2 separate regions of the Homo sapiens genome follow, and region 1 is linked to region 2. Evidence: fine-mapped expression QTL. A gene starts in region 2. The other region holds a variant in brackets. All regions are shown on one strand. Distances are between the middles of the regions.

The links.
Region 1: its variant is fine-mapped to the expression of ADAM32 in hypothalamus (GTEx, PIP 0.96).

The regions. Positions count from the first base shown.
Region 1 is chr8:39,274,707-39,283,052 of GRCh38, forward strand. It overlaps ADAM32 (ADAM metallopeptidase domain 32), which reads left to right. Exons shown (of 25, transcript NM_145004.7): 22 at 1,122-1,160; 23 at 6,430-6,468. Among named protein-coding and RNA genes, the nearest start is that of ADAM32, 170 kb to the left of the region's middle. The variant G/A (reference allele first, on the strand shown) is at 4,326.
Region 2 is chr8:39,103,145-39,111,490 of GRCh38, forward strand. It overlaps ADAM32 (ADAM metallopeptidase domain 32), which reads left to right and starts at 4,590. Exons shown (of 25, transcript NM_145004.7): 1 at 4,590-4,689. The coding sequence starts at 4,632. ADAM9 (ADAM metallopeptidase domain 9) reads left to right here. Exons shown (of 22, transcript NM_003816.3): 22 at 463-2,117. The coding sequence ends at 556.

The DNA.
Region 1 (8,346 bases), 170 kb after region 2:
CACATGTATGATGGTGGTTCCATAAGATTATAATGAAGGTGAAAATTCCTACAGCCTAGTGATGTTGTAGCCATCACAACATCAGAGAGCAATGCATTACTCACTTGTTTGTGGTGATGCTGGTGTAAACAAACCTACTGTGCTTTGCAGAAGACTCCTTGTGGAGGTCATGTTTTACCCTCCTGTGTGATAAATTTTTACATTAACTGTTACACTGGAGTTCATGGGAAGCATGGAGTGGTGTCCTTATCCTATACGTGTAAAGAATTAAGGCTCCTGTTTCTCTGTGTGATGATTTTTCCATCCAAATTCCTAAGCCAATTTAAGTGCTCCGGGTTCCCGTGCCTCCTGGTGTTCATTTTTCATCTCTACTTCTGAAGCAATTTCCCTGATGCATCTCTGTGTCTAGTGGCCACAGCTTTTACTATCCCCATTTCATGGGTGGTACAGCCTTTCAGGGCTTCCAGGTTTAGAGAAGGAGGTCAGCTTCATCTTTCTAGGAAGTCTCAACTCTTGATAAGCTGATGTGGCTTATGAAACTGACTTGTGTACCCCCAAAGTCATTCAGATTTAGTTTGTATTTACCTTTCGCATTTTCAATTCTCTCTCTCTCTGTTACTATCACTAGAAATGGCCTTTTCTTTCATAAAGTTTTAGTAAATAGTATGTGTTGTTTTGCACTATTTCTCTGTGTGTGGTATAGGAGGGGAAATTACCACACCTCCCCATCAGTTCAGTCTTCTTGACATTAGTGTGGATTTTGAATCACAACCTACAGCAATGTATTTATCAACGGATAGACTCTGAAGGCCAGAATCAGGCATTTAAAATAAAGCATGTATTCTGTGCTAGAAAGTGAAAGGAGAAAAACAAATCAGTTTTCTTGTTCCTCTGCTTAGTTGAATATTTGAAATTTAAACTTTTTATGGACATTGTATATGAATAAATAAAAACTTGTTTGCATATGCTAATTTAGTAGTCTTTTGAAATTATTCTTCAGTGGTGATTCTTGGTAGAGAAGAATTAACACAGGTTGTAAAATGATCCGACATTCATTCATTATGGAGGCACATTTGTGTTAAGTATTAACGTGGAAGCATTACTTTTTCGCTTTCTTTTAGAACCAGATCAGAAAGCAGCAGTCAAGCTGATACTAGCAAGTAAGTGAATTAGGGGGCATTTTTTTTATATAATAAGTATATGTTAAAAATTGAGATGAACAAATTGATAATTAACAATTACTTGCTAACTATTAACTGAGTAGCCACAATTAGTAAAGTACTGTACCTTAAAACAACCTATTTGCTGATCTAGTAACTTGCGAGTATTTGTCTAAATAAGACAATATCTTCTTTCCTGCAGTTTAGTTAATATGTGTTGGGAGTTTATTTTTGGGAAACAAAGGAAAACATTTTTGGTGAAATGTTTAAGGAGCTAATTCATAAAAAGGATCTTTTTGTATTCTTTTTCTTGGAGTACACCAAGGGGAAGTTTACTTTTTTATTTGGAGATGGCACAACTAGAAACTAATATGTATGCTGATGAATAACTGAGTGAATGCTCGCATAGATCACCTGGGAAGAATTTGTTGAAAAAAAAAAAAGCATCACAAAGGAACAAAAATTCCACATCTTTCATTGTTCTCAGTATTACTAGGTCCCTGTCCATTTCCTGAAAGGTGGATGTCTTTTTATAATAACTCAGTAAGTATCTAGTTCCTCACACTCAGCAATTGTGGGTTTTAGGTCCTTCTGCAGATATAAAATGCTTTGAAGTTTTTACTGCTCCCTCTCTGAGTTACAGTTTTTATATACATTTATAGGGGGCTAGTGTTATTCTTTCTAGGTTGCTCCAAGCCCACTGCTGTTCCCAAACACATCCAAATCCACAGGACAAACTCTCTAAGCTGCACAACAAGGTTGTATGATTTCTTTTGTTCCAGAAGAAATTTACCTCTTCAATAAGAATGCCTGCGTTGCTCATTTTTAATCTGCCTCATTATTTTTTTCCTTACAGTGGCACGTTGGAGTCATGAGTTTATCTTTAAAATTTTGATTTTTATTATCATGTCTGTTCTTATTATTGTGAGCAAGGGAGTTACCATATAGGGATCAGGCCCAGCGAGCCTCAGTGACCTTTTTCTCTTATTATATTCTGTCATCTCAGATAATAAAGGCTATGTCTATCTTGCTCAGCATTGTATAGCTAGCATGTAGCAGAGTGCTCGGCTCATATTATAAGTGATCAATAAATATTTGTTGAAGGAATGAATGAATGACTACCTTTGATCTTCACACAGAGGCAACCAAACCAACAAAAACAGAAACACAAAGGTACATAGACAAATCTATATATATATGTGTTCACATGCATGCATGCACACACATTCATATATCCATGATGATGTTGTCGCTTCCTCCATTTCTTCTTCGCTCAATATATCATCTCTCACCCTGAAACCCTGTTAACATAATTCATCTCTCCCAGGGTTATTTACCTCCATTCAGTGAGGGGTGATAGCATCACCCATAGGAAAATGTACATTTCAATAGACATCGTTTAATTTGCAATGTTAAACCACTGGTCTAGCCTTCTGGCTTACCGTGCACCAGGGAATCATTTTAGAATAACTATTCATTTGAATTTTAGTAACATCATTTGACATGGTGGCTGTGCTTTAGTGATATAACATCCACCATAGTTTTCATGTCATTTATCTTTGGAGTAACCTTTAACTGGTGGGAAGTTGAAGCCAAAGAAAGCAGAGAGATGGAATGAATTCCAGTGAAGCAGGATATTTCCCTGACCCCTTCAGGGGACTCATGACAGGGGTGCCTCGTTTACTCAGCCTCCTGACTCCTCATCGGAGGGAACGCGTGGGTGAACGAGGTGGGAGCTGCTAGAGTGCAGGAGCGCTGGAACCAGCCGGCCATTTCAGCCCTGGCTGGGCGGGATCAAACTCCACTCACTGGGACCCACTGCGCTCCACCACTCGGGAGGGAGCATGCAGGTGAGCAGGTGCAGGAGCCACAGCCAGCACTTTTGGGCGCCGGCAGGGGCGAACTCTGTGCAGGCCCTGCAGCGGTATCCAGGCAGGGTGCCTGTGACTCCGAAAACCCCAGAGGGCGTGTTACAGTGCTCTTTTAGCTTGGACAGCTTAAGTATTAACAGCTCAGTAGGCCCTCTGCCTTTTCAAGTGAGGCGGCTGATCTCCACCAGTGAGGGCGAAGGGACAGTGTGACAGCCTTTTGAATCCACACTTGTGGCTCCCAAACTCTTGTCTGGCATCCAGGAAAAATGAGGTTGCATGAATGAATTGAAAGATGATAAATGTGAGGAATTTTATTGAATAATGAAAGTGGCTTTCAGCGGGAAGGGGAGCTGAAAAGGGGATGGGCAGGAAATCTTCCCCTCAAGTCCAGCCACCTCGGGCTGGACTCTTCTCTGAAGTTATGCCATCAAGCTGTCCCTCTGAAGTCTAGCCCCTTCTCTCCGACATCCAGCCATAGTCCCTGACGTCCAGCTGCCTCTCGTCTCTGCCAACTGAGTCTGGGGTCTTTATAGGCACAGAATGGGGAGGGGCAGGGCCATGGGTGGTTTAGGTTGAGCAGGAAAACAGTGATAGAAATTCTCTCTTTGGATGGTGGTTTCCGGCTTTTCGGCTTGAGGGTGGCGCTTTTGCCAGAGACCCACCCTTTTCTGCCTAGAATTTCTCTGCCACCTGTTCCCATCACCAGTATGGGTCACATTAGTACTACTTTAGTGTAATTATTTTAAATGTCTAAATTCTTTCAGTATTTCCAGTCTTTTCCTAAGCAACAGAAGAATCTTTGACAATTTATCAGCAAACTCTTAACATTACTCTCCCATATTATTGTCATTTGGCTTTTAGCTTCTTCCAGGTTTTTACCTACAGAACCCTACCCTCCATTATTATTATTATTATTACTATTATTATAATCATTTTTATATTAAATTAATACCTGCTAAGAGCTTAAAACGTATTTATCAGTTGCTTTGCTCTCACTATTTATTGTTGAATCCATTGATTTTTCATTATGGGTTTAGTTTCCTTTTTACAACCCTTTTAGTTTCAGTTTAGTGATTCTGTATTATCAACATTTGTGTTAAATGCCTGAACATGCTTTTTTTATCCACACTGAATTTTGAATGATAGCTTAAATGGTTACTCCTAGCTGAGAAGGACTTTTCTGAAAGCGTTTTGTAATATTCTGTTGTTGTAATGTGCCATGTACTGTCATTGATGAGACCTTAGTTGTCAGTATCATTATTTATTCCCCCCTCAATTAATGTGCTTTTTCTAG[G/A]TGGCTTCTAAGTTTTCCTTTTTGTCTCAAATGTTTTGTTATTTTATGATTATATGTTCTGATAGAATTTGTTTTTATTTATCCAGCTCTAGATTCAATATAGTCTTTAGATATCAGGACTCAGGTCATTAAATCTAAAAAATTAATTCAGTCATTATGTCTTCAATTATTGACTCTTTCTCATTCTTTCTCTTTTTTCCACTGGAAATGATTATATTTAGGAGGGTCTTCTCATTTTAGCCTTCATGTTTCTTTCGTCTTTTATTTATTTTTTTTAAGCGGAGTCTCTGTTGCCCAGGCTGGAATGCAGTGGCGCGAGCTCAGCTCACTGCAACTTCCATCTCCTGGGTTCAGGCAATTCTCTGCCTCAGCCTACCAAGTAGCTGGGCTTACAGGCACCTGCCACCACGCCTGGCTAATTTTTGTAGTTTTAGTAGAGACGGGGTTTCACCATCTTGGCCAGGCTCTTCTTGAACTCCTGACCTTGTGATCCACTCGCCTCGGCCTCCCAAAGTACTGTGATTGCAGGCGTGAGCCACCATGCCCGGACTAGCATCCATGTTTCTTAACTGGGTTCTTCATGTATTACATCTTTCTACCTCTCTATCTGACATTGTTTCACTTCCTTATATCAGTTTCCAAATCCTCCGTTTTCTTAATAGCTATTTTTTTTTGCCTCAGTCCTGCCTTGATTTGTGTGGAGATCCTAAATATTTCAATTTTGAAGATTTTTATATTATCTGTTGATCTTGATGTGTGAATTTTTGTTTTGCAATTTAGGTTGATAAGCCCACCCTCAAGGGCAGTGATTGTTCTCATGGGACTTCTGCATGCCCTGAGTTGTAGAGGCATGCATTGGGAGGATGAGAGTATTTCAGGTTTGCCTCTCCTGGGGCATGAATGTTGTAATGTTTTCCATGCTTGCTCTTTCAGATTTGCGAGTAGTGGAACTGAGCAGCTGAGGTCTGCACTGCGTGGTGCAGGCCTGTGATTTCTGCATCTCTAGATGATCCTTTTCTTTTCACTTGCCTGAGAAAATTTGCTAGTTGTGTTCTGAAGTGCAGTGGTCATAGCTTTTAATATTTCCATTAAAGACTACCAGGCTTGGGAAACTGCTCCATTGCAGCTTTCTAACACGTAAAGATCCATGCCCTCAACTCCTTCCAAGCTAGGGTTATGAAAACCACATCTTTTAGGGTATAAGTAATTCAGCTTTAGCTCTTGTTTTCCCTCTGAGCTTCTAATTTATTTTTTTTTAAATGGTAGAAGGAAAACCCTTTGTGACTGTCAATCTTAGTTATGCATACGTTTTTTGTTTTCTTCAGCTTTTCTCTATGTATCTAATAGAAAGGATAAGTTTTACTATTTGTCCAGTCTGCCAAACTGGTCAGAAGTAAATGTAAGTTTTAATTTACAAACTGCTGCAATTTATATATTAACAAATACAAAACTAACTTGGAGGCTGAAGAACAGGTTTAGACATTTACAGTTAAATTTACATTAACTTCGAAGTAATTTGAAAAACCTCTGCTATCTTGATACTCTTGATTCTCTACTAGAGAATTTACATTTTGTACTATATGTTGCATTTGGTGTTTGAGTAAAAAAGAATGCTATTTATTTGCATGCCCCACATATTTAAATAATTAGTTTTGGTGCTATAAAATGGCCTGTTTTTCATTCTCAAAGTAGGCAAGCTCTTAGTGTTAACTTTCAGATATTGTTTTTAATTTATTTTTATTTTTATTTATGTTTATTTTTATTTTTTTGAGATGGAGTCTTGCTCTGTCTCCCAGGCTGGAGTGCAGTGGCGTGATCTTGGCTCACTGCAAGCTCTGCCTCCTGGGTTCACTCCATTCTCCTGCCTCAGTCTCCCGAGTAGCTGGGACTACAGGCGCCCGCCACCACACCTGGCTAATTTTTTGTATTTTTAGTAGAGACGGGGTTTCATCGTATTAGCCAGGATGGTCTCGATCTCCTGACCTTGTGATCCACTCGCCTCAGCCTCCCAAAGTGCTGGGATTACAGGCATGAGCCACCGCGCCTGGCCAATTTATTTTTAATAATAGATATTTAATATATATTGTTTTTAATTTATTTTTAGATCCAAATCAGAAGATAGTGCTGAAGCATATACTAGCAGGTAAGCAGGATAGAAAGTGTTACTTATAAATAAGTATGTTGAAAATTCAGAATGAAAAAGTTGATAATTCACAAATAATTGCTCAACATTTTTTGAGCAGCCACAATCGATAAAGTCTACACCAAACCCAACTTATTAATATTTCCCATTCTACAAGCATTAATTAATTCCATTAATCTTTTTTCTTCAGTTGACTAAATTTTTGTTGATTGCCTACTCTTGTGGTACATAAGAAATAAGCTAGTGAAATTTAATAAGAGACAAATATTTATGATTACTTTGTGAAACTAAATCATAAGCTGAACATTTTGCATCCTTTATTCTGGGATACACAAAGGGGAAATAGTACTTTTTCAGGTTGCATTTACACCCCCAAAAACTCAATGTGAACAACTGAGCGAATGATTATTTCCACTTAGGAAGAGTTTAGGAGACAGTATTATAAACACACTAAAATTCTACATTTCCCACAGATCCTCAATGTCCCACACCTATGTTAACAAGGGTTCTCTGAACTCGTTTAGAGAAGCTTTTGGTTTCCTACACCCCACAGTTGTGGCTTTGTGATCCTTCTGAAGTTATCAAATATTTACTGCTATGTTCGTCATGGTTTCTCCATTGTAGAGTTTTCATTTTCTTATATTGCCTAGTATTTTTCCTTAAAGTGACCTCTTTGAGTTACATTCAACCCACTGCTATTCCAAAATATCCTTTATACACACAGATTAAATTTTCTAGGCTACACCAAAACATTATATGGTTTGTATTTTCCCCAATGAAGGCACCCCATCCATTAGGAAAGCTACAGTATTTCTGTCTCCTTTATCCTTTCTGTTGTTCTTGGATGTCTCCTAACATAAGCACCCTTTTACAGTCATCAGTTACTTTCTCTAAGCTATGTTTGAGAAAAAAGCTGATTTTCTTTGTTGTCTCCACTCTCCGTCACTGTCACCAAGGGAGTTGTGATAGAGTGCTCAAACACTGCAATTCTCCCAATCTTCTGCTCACCTAGAAGCATTACTCTCCTTTTAGGCTCTGAAATCACTTGAGGGTCAAGTCCATGTTTATTTTCCCTACCTATTTATAGGTAGCATCTTGCAGGGTTAATGCTCAATAAATACTTGCTTAACGAATGAGTGGTTTCTCTTGAAGTTCACATATGCACATATAATTCTTAGTGGTGTAACTACTCTAATTGTCCCCTTACATTATCTCTCCTCATAAAATATGCCATAATCATATCATAATCATCCTTTTTAAAAGTAATAAATTCAACTAGATTGAGGGATAGACAAGGGCATCATCTATAGGGTAATATACACTGGATTTGGGGAGTATAATTTGGAATGTTAACCCATTATTCTAACTTTGTGTTTAGCATACCCAGAAAGGTATTTGGTGATTATTCTTTCACTTAAACTTAGTAAGCTAAGCAGACATAGTTGCTGTCCTTTACTGTTAGAGCATTTACTGTATTTTCTTGTATTTCTGTTCCTTTTACATTTATATTTTTAGTATTTTTGTTGCCGTTGGGAAGCCAGTGGGAGATGTTGGTAGAGCCAATTCCTTGGGTAAACATAATGAAACAATATATTTTTTTAAGCCAGAAATCTAATGGGTGTACATTTCAGTAGACTCATATGTCTATAAATACAGATCTTTTTATTGGTTTGGGAGATAACTAATTATATTAAATAAGAATGTTTCATGGTCAGAGTAGTAGGAAAAATCAACAGTAAGTTTTGAAGATATAAAATAGCAAAGGTAGGGAAAGGACGAAAGAAGTAAAATTGTGCATTATCACTGAATACTCTCACTTATATTGTATTATCTTCTCTGTGAATTAATCTTGATTAATTTGTCTTCAGTTCATTCTTT
Region 2 (8,346 bases):
TTTGAGATGGACAGGTATAGAAGTCATAACACTTTTAATTCTCAGAGTGAATCTCATGTTGAGGGAGCTATAAACAGCTAGGTTTACACCAGCAGTAATTTGCTGCCCTCAAATTCTAACAGCACAGGCAAGTGCTTGATCACTTAGTGTACTCACTTGTCTTTTACAGTTTATCTTTACCATTTCATGTGCTTTTTTTTTTTTTGAAAAAACATGTAAACTAGAACCTTCATACAACATTGTTGATTATGGAGTAATATTATTTAAAGTAGTTATTCCATTTTAGACTCTAATTGGAGCCTTTTAGCCATTGAATATCACCCTAATACTGATCTCAGAATGTACAGTACCCTTTCCTGTTGTCAGAGATGTTGAGGATGGTGTTATGTTGAGCTTGTAATGAATATGGCATTATTTCACCCAGTCTAAACACTCTATTAACTATCTCTTTTCCCCTCGCAGGCCACCTCCACCACAACCGAAAGTATCATCTCAGGGAAACTTAATTCCTGCCCGTCCTGCTCCTGCACCTCCTTTATATAGTTCCCTCACTTGATTTTTTTAACCTTCTTTTTGCAAATGTCTTCAGGGAACTGAGCTAATACTTTTTTTTTTTCTTGATGTTTTCTTGAAAAGCCTTTCTGTTGCAACTATGAATGAAAACAAAACACCACAAAACAGACTTCACTAACACAGAAAAACAGAAACTGAGTGTGAGAGTTGTGAAATACAAGGAAATGCAGTAAAGCCAGGGAATTTACAATAACATTTCCGTTTCCATCATTGAATAAGTCTTATTCAGTCATCGGTGAGGTTAATGCACTAATCATGGATTTTTTGAACATGTTATTGCAGTGATTCTCAAATTAACTGTATTGGTGTAAGAGTTTTGTCATTAAGTGTTTAAGTGTTATTCTGAATTTTCTACCTTAGTTATCATTAATGTAGTTCCTCATTGAACATGTGATAATCTAATACCTGTGAAAACTGACTAATCAGCTGCCAATAATATCTAATATTTTTCATCATGCACGAATTAATAATCATCATACTCTAGAATCTTGTCTGTCACTCACTACATGAATAAGCAAATATTGTCTTCAAAAGAATGCACAAGAACCACAATTAAGATGTCATATTATTTTGAAAGTACAAAATATACTAAAAGAGTGTGTGTGTATTCACGCAGTTACTCGCTTCCATTTTTATGACCTTTCAACTATAGGTAATAACTCTTAGAGAAATTAATTTAATATTAGAATTTCTATTATGAATCATGTGAAAGCATGACATTCGTTCACAATAGCACTATTTTAAATAAATTATAAGCTTTAAGGTACGAAGTATTTAATAGATCTAATCAAATATGTTGATTCATGGCTATAATAAAGCAGGAGCAATTATAAAATCTTCAATCAATTGAACTTTTACAAAACCACTTGAGAATTTCATGAGCACTTTAAAATCTGAACTTTCAAAGCTTGCTATTAAATCATTTAGAATGTTTACATTTACTAAGGTGTGCTGGGTCATGTAAAATATTAGACACTAATATTTTCATAGAAATTAGGCTGGAGAAAGAAGGAAGAAATGGTTTTCTTAAATACCTACAAAAAAGTTACTGTGGTATCTATGAGTTATCATCTTAGCTGTGTTAAAAATGAATTTTTACTATGGCAGATATGGTATGGATCGTAAAATTTTAAGCACTAAAAATTTTTTCATAACCTTTCATAATAAAGTTTAATAATAGGTTTATTAACTGAATTTCATTAGTTTTTTAAAAGTGTTTTTGGTTTGTGTATATATACATATACAAATACAACATTTACAATAAATAAAATACTTGAAATTCTCTTTTGTGTCTCCTAGTAGCTTCCTACTCAACTATTTATAATCTCATTAATTAAAAAGTTATAATTTTAGATAAAAATTCTAGTCAAATTTTTACAGATATTATCTCACTAATTTTCAGACTTTTGCCAAAGTGTGCACAATGGCTTTTTGTTAATAAAGAACAGATTAGTTTTGAAGAAGGCAAAAATTTCAGTTTTCTGAAGACAGCATGTTATTTTAACAATCAAGTATACATATTAAAAATTGTGAGCAATCTCAAATGAAGGTCCATCGTTTCATTTTAAATCTCTAAATGAATTCATATAAGACTCAAACGTTTGTGCTGTTCACTCATGTAGCCTCAGTTTTTGCAATTGTGATGCATATCACTGAAATTTTACAGTTGGTAATGTATTAACTATGTAACTTAACACTTGGAATTAAATAGTTCTTTGGATATTTGACTAGTTAAGTTTTTAAAAAGACTATTGGATCTGAACTTCTTTTATATATTTTTTAATATGCTTTATGTTTTTTACTTACTTGGTCATGGATGCCACTTCAAAATTTGAAAATATTAAAGGACATCCTTTCTTTCTTCAAAAAGAATAAATAAGGGTAAATTATATGCAAGTTTGACATCTCTGTTTGACTCTGTATGTCAAACTGACCTTGTTCAGAGTATTGCATTCTCGCTTTCTCCTGTGTCTGTAACCATAGAGTTAAGCACAATTTGGGTTTTCTAAACTCAAATCAGATTTTATTAAATTTCATAAATGTTTACTAAAACCTACCATTTTTCAGGCACTGTATTAGGTACTGTGATATCTAAGTTCTGGATAGGATATGTTTCCCGACTTTTAGAAGTGCATCCTCTGTTATGAAGAGAGGCATACACACAAGAATAATACAAAATCAACCCTATTAAAGATACAAACCAGAAAGGTTGAGGAGTAAGAAAGAACAAAATAATACAAGAGCCAGAAATTCATTCAGAATACTTACCACTAATTGATGAGTTGAAGCATTTACTGTAATTGCTCTTCTGTTTGTTACAAAGCAAGGTGAAACTAGCTGTGGCTCAGCAGCTGCCTAAAAGCAGTGTTAGCTTAGCATTGGCTGTTCCTATTGAGATACAAGCTCAGTGTATTTTTTTGTTGCCTTGTTCCCCACCCCACCCCTCCACCTGCCCCAGATGGAGTTTTGCTCGTCACCCAGGCTGGAGGGCAATGGCACAATCTCGGCTCACTGCAACCTCCACTTCCTGGGCTCAAGCGATTCTCCTTCCTCAGCCTCCCCAAGTGCTGGGATTACAGGCGCCCACAACCATGCCCGGCTAATTTTTGTATTTTTTAGTAGAAACGGGGTTTCACCATGTTGACCAGGCTGGTTTCAAACTCCTGACCTCTGGTGATCCAACCACCTCGGCCTCCCTAAGTGCTGGGATTACAGGCGTGAGCCACCTCACCTGGCCTGTTGCCTTGTTTTTGTTCATGCTATTAATTTCAGGTGTAGATTGCCCTGTTGAAATTGCGTGCATCCATAAAAATCACATCTTCACTTTAAATGTCTTAGTTCCCCAAGTGAGATTTTTCTCTGTTCCCATGAGGCCTTTTAGTTTATGTGTTGGCCTATTATGTAGTATGAGAAATTAATCCATTCTTTGGGATTTGAAAAGAATGAAAAGCTAATGCATACAGATGGAGACCAGGTGTGAGGCTGGGAAGGAGGAGGCATTGCAGTTCCAGGGAGTAAAGCAGTGTTTAGGAAAAACCCAAAGTCAGAGCTGCTAAAACACGGGATAGGAGAAATTAAGTGGCAGGTTCCGGTCTGAGTTCAGAAAAATTACTATGCTGAGGCTAGAATTTTCTACTGGAATGTAATTACTGTAATTGTGGGCAAGAATCTCTAAATCTTTCACTACATGAAATAAGTATTTATTGCACTGAGAAGTTTCTGAACAATAGAATGACATCACATGAGTTTTAGCCAATGGCCTGCGGAGAACCAGATTGGAGGAAAAAGCCTGGTTGTGAAGTCCATTTGGGCAGCGTCAGTGGGGAAAAAAATGCAGCTGGCGCTCTTCAAAAATATGAAGAGCTGGCATTTCATATTGAAAAGCGGCTCACTTTTCCCTTCTTTGGAATGTTCACACATCTGGCTAAATAGTTTTGAAAAAATATTAGAAACAGGTTTGGCAAATATGAATATATATTTAGGTGTGTATATAGATTTTAATTCAGAAAGTATTACACATTCGCTTTTGAAAGGACCTAGGAAGCCCCGAACGGTGGCAGATGCCTGTAATCCCAGCTACTCAGGAAGTTGAGGAGGGAGGATCACTTGAACCCAGGAGTTCGAGACCAGCCTGGGCAGAATAGTGAGCACCCCCGTCCCAAAAAGAAAAAAAAGCAACTGGGAAGTGTCTGGTGCAGGAGAGCACACGCTGACTGTGAATAAGTGTGTCAGTTCTTAAGGTCCAGCAACACAAAGCGAAAAGTTAGTGGAGGACTACGAGCGCGATCTCGACAGAGGGCGCTGGGTGGTCAGTGGCTCCAGCAACCACGCGGCTGGGGTGCGCCGGGAAGGGAGCTGGATGTTTTAGCCTCGGGGCGCACGCTGCGGGCCCTTCGTGTTCCGGACGCTAAACACCGAGAGCACCCCGTCTCCGGGGCCTCCGGAGAACGCTGTCCCATGAACGTGCGGGGAGCGGCCCCCGGCGTCCGCGCGTCCCCGCGTCCCTGGCAATTCCCGACTTCCCAACGGCTTCCCGCTGGCAGCCCCGAAGCCGCACCATGTTCCGCCTCTGGTTGCTGCTGGCCGGGCTCTGCGGCCTCCTGGCGTCAAGACCCGGTGAGCCAGCCCAGACCCTGACACTAGTCCGGGCGCTCGTCACACTGCGGCCCGACTCCCTGCAAAGCCCGGGGCCCTCCCTGTCTGGGTCCCTTTGGTCCTGTCACCCTGGCAACGGGGCCTTTTCCAGGGGATTAGGCGCCCCGTCCGGATGGAGAAGCGACTCAGGGCCCAGCACCAGGGCTCACGCCTGTAATCCCAGGGCTTTGAGAGACTGAGGCGAGCTGATTGTTTGACCTCGGAGTTGGAGACCAGCTTGGGCAACACAGCAAGACCCCATCTCTACAAAAAAATTTAAAAAAATGTTCCGAGGTGGTGGTGCGCACCTGTGATCCCAGCTACCCGGGAGGCTGAGGGAGGAGGACCACGTGAGTCCAGGAGGTGGAGGCTGCAGTGAGCCAAGATCGCCCCCACTGGACTCCAGCCTGGGCGACAGAGATCCTGTCTTTTTTATAAATTAAAAAAATTATTTTTGTGTGTGACCGAGTCCCTTCTGTCGCCCAGGCTGGAGTGCAGTGGGCAACAGTAGGCAACAGAGGGAGACTCCAGATCGTAGTTCTCCAGAACTATGAGGAAAATAAATTTCTGTTGTTTAAGCCATGCAGTCTACACTATTTTGTTATGGCAGTGGGAGCTGACTAATATAGTACTTAACAGCAAAATGATTGAAAAACTGTAAAAGTTCATTAGTAAGAGAACTGCTAAATAAACTGTGGTTATCTCCAAACAATGCAAATGGACCACTGTGGAGAGGGAGGAAGTAAGACATGCCATGTACTGACTCTGGCTGACAAGATTCAGAATAGTATGTAATAAGAGAAGGAAAAAAATACGGGCATATCCAAACATTTTACTTGCATGTAAGCCTCCCTGGTGATACTGTAAATTTTTGAGAACTCTTCCTACTCTTCTTCCTATCCTGCCATAATTACCTCTGCAGCATAGCAGAGGTGTGGTCAAGGCCAGGGTGTCAGCCTGGTTAGATTAGGGTGAGTGTTCTCTTCCTGGCTTGTAAACAGCTACCTTCTCCCTGCGTACTCACAGGACCTTTTCTTTGTGTACAGGGAAAGACAGGAGGAGGAAATTCTCTGATGTCTCATCTTATAAGGGCATGAATCTCATCATGAGGGTCCCACTCTATGCCTAAAACCCTGATTACCTCCCAAAGGCCATAACCAAATACTGTCACATTGGGGGTTAGGGATTCAACATAGAATTTTGTGGGATACATTCAGTTCATAACACATACAAAATTTTAATGCAGTGGTTGTCAAAGTTTTTGGGTTCAGAACTGCCTTATACATGAACAATTTTTGAGATTCTCAAAGAGCTTTTGTTTATGTGGATTTATATCGATGTTTAACATATTAGAAATTAAAATAGAAATGTAAGAATGTGTATTTCATTCATTAAAAATAAAAGTAACGGCCAGGCGTGGTGGCTCACGCCTGTAATCCCAGCACTTTGGGAGGCTGAGGCAGGTGGATCACCTGAGTGAGGTCAGGAGTTTGAAATCAGCCTGGCCAACATGGTGAAACCCCATTGCTACTAAAATACAAAAAAATTAGCTGGGCGTGGTGGTGCGTGCCTGTAATCCCAGCTACTCGGGAAGCTGAGGCAGGAGAATCGGTTGAACCCAGGAGGCAGGAGTTGCAGTGAGCTGAGATGGCACCATCGCACTCCAGCCTGGGTGACAAGAGCAAAACTCCATCTCAAAAAATAAAATAAAAAAAAAATATTAATGAACATTATTTTTTAGAGTACGTTTAGGTTCATAGCAAAATTGAGCTGAAAGAGTTCCCATATAGCCCCTGATCCCAAATATGAACAGCTTCTCCCACTATCAACATCTGGCACCATGGGATCCATTTGTTACAATTGAGCCTACACTGACACATTGTTATCATCCAAAGTCCACAGTTTGTTTGCATTAGGGTTCATTCTCCACATTGCCCATTCTATGGTTTTGACAAATGTACAATGACATGCATCCACCATTGTAGTATTATACAGAATAGTTTCACTGCCCTACAAATCCCATGTGTTCTGCTTATTTATCCCTCCCTCCCCACTGCCCCTGGCAACAACTCATCTCCTTAGTCTTCTTAGTTTTGCCTTTTCCAGAGTGTCATGTATTTGAAATCATATGTAGCCATTTTGGATGGACTTTTTTTTTACTTAATAATATGCATTTAAGGTTCTCCCATGCCTTTTCATGGCTTGATAGCTTATTTACTTACTTAATTGTTTTTTTGAGATGGTGTCTTACTCTGTCGCCCAGGCTGGAGTGCAGTGGCAGGATCTTGGCTCACTGCAAACTCCGCCTCCCGGTTCAAGCAATTTTCCTGCCTCAGCCTCCCAAATAGCTGGGATTACAGGTGCCTGCTACCATGCCCAGCTAATTTTTTTGTATTTTTAGTAGAGATGGGGTTTCACTGTGTTGACCAGGCTGGTTTCGAACTCCTGACTTCAAGTGATCCACCCACCTTGGCCTCCCAAAGTGCTAGGATTACAGGCATGAGCCGCTGCACCCGGCCGCTTTTTTATTTTTAGTGCTGAATAATATTCAATTGTCTGGATCTACCACAGTTTATTTATCCATTTACCTACCAAATGACATCTTGGTTGCTTCTAAGCTTTGGCAGTTATGAATAAAGCTGCTATAAACATCTATGTGCAGGTTTTTGTGTGGACATAAGTTTTCAACTCATTTGGGTAAATACCAAGAAATGCTATTGCTGAATCATATGATAAGAGTATATTTAGTTTTTAAAGAAACTGCCAAGCTGTCTTCCAAAGTGGCTGTACCATTTGCATTCACCCCAGCAATGAATGAGAACTTCTTTTATTAATGCTGTCATATTATAAATTATATGCATAACTACAAGTGCAAGAAATCCTGGCTGTCTTTTTTATTATAACTCAGAAGAGAGAATTTAAACTTTCAAATGAAAATGCCAGCTCCAAACTGCTGATGGTCCCATCAGCTGAGGGATCTTGCTCAGCAATTTGGGGATGGCATTTTCACATTAAGCAGTCACTCCTCATGTCCTCCTGCTTCCAGCCCCTGGCAGCCACTGATCTGCTTTGGATTTATCTGGCAGCCACTGTCCCTTTGGATTTATCTATTCTGGGTATTTCGTATAAATGGAATCATACAAAATATGACCTTTTTTGTCTGGCTTAATTCACTTGCATAATGTTTTCAAGGTTCGTCTCTGTTGTAGAATGCATTAGAACTTCATTCCTTTTTGTGACTGAATAATATTTCATTGTATATATTCACCCGTTTGTTTACTGATTCATCAGTTGATGGACATTTGATTGTTTCCAACTTTTGGCTGTTAGGAGTAATGCTGCTAGGAACCTTCATGTACCAGTTTTTGTGTGGACATATGTTTTCATTTCTCTTGGATATGTACTTACAAAGAAACTGTTAGGCTCAGTGGTATAGGTATGTCCATTTCCTCTTCTGGACTTTGTTATCCCCCAATAATGAGTTGGCTATTCTGGGTCTTTTACCTCCTCATGTAAACAGTAGAATATGTTGGTTGATATCCACAAAATAGCTTGCTTAGATTTTGATTAGGATAGTCTTGACATAGAACAAATTGGGAAGAGGCTGGGAATGGTGGCTTATGCTTGTAATCCCAGCAC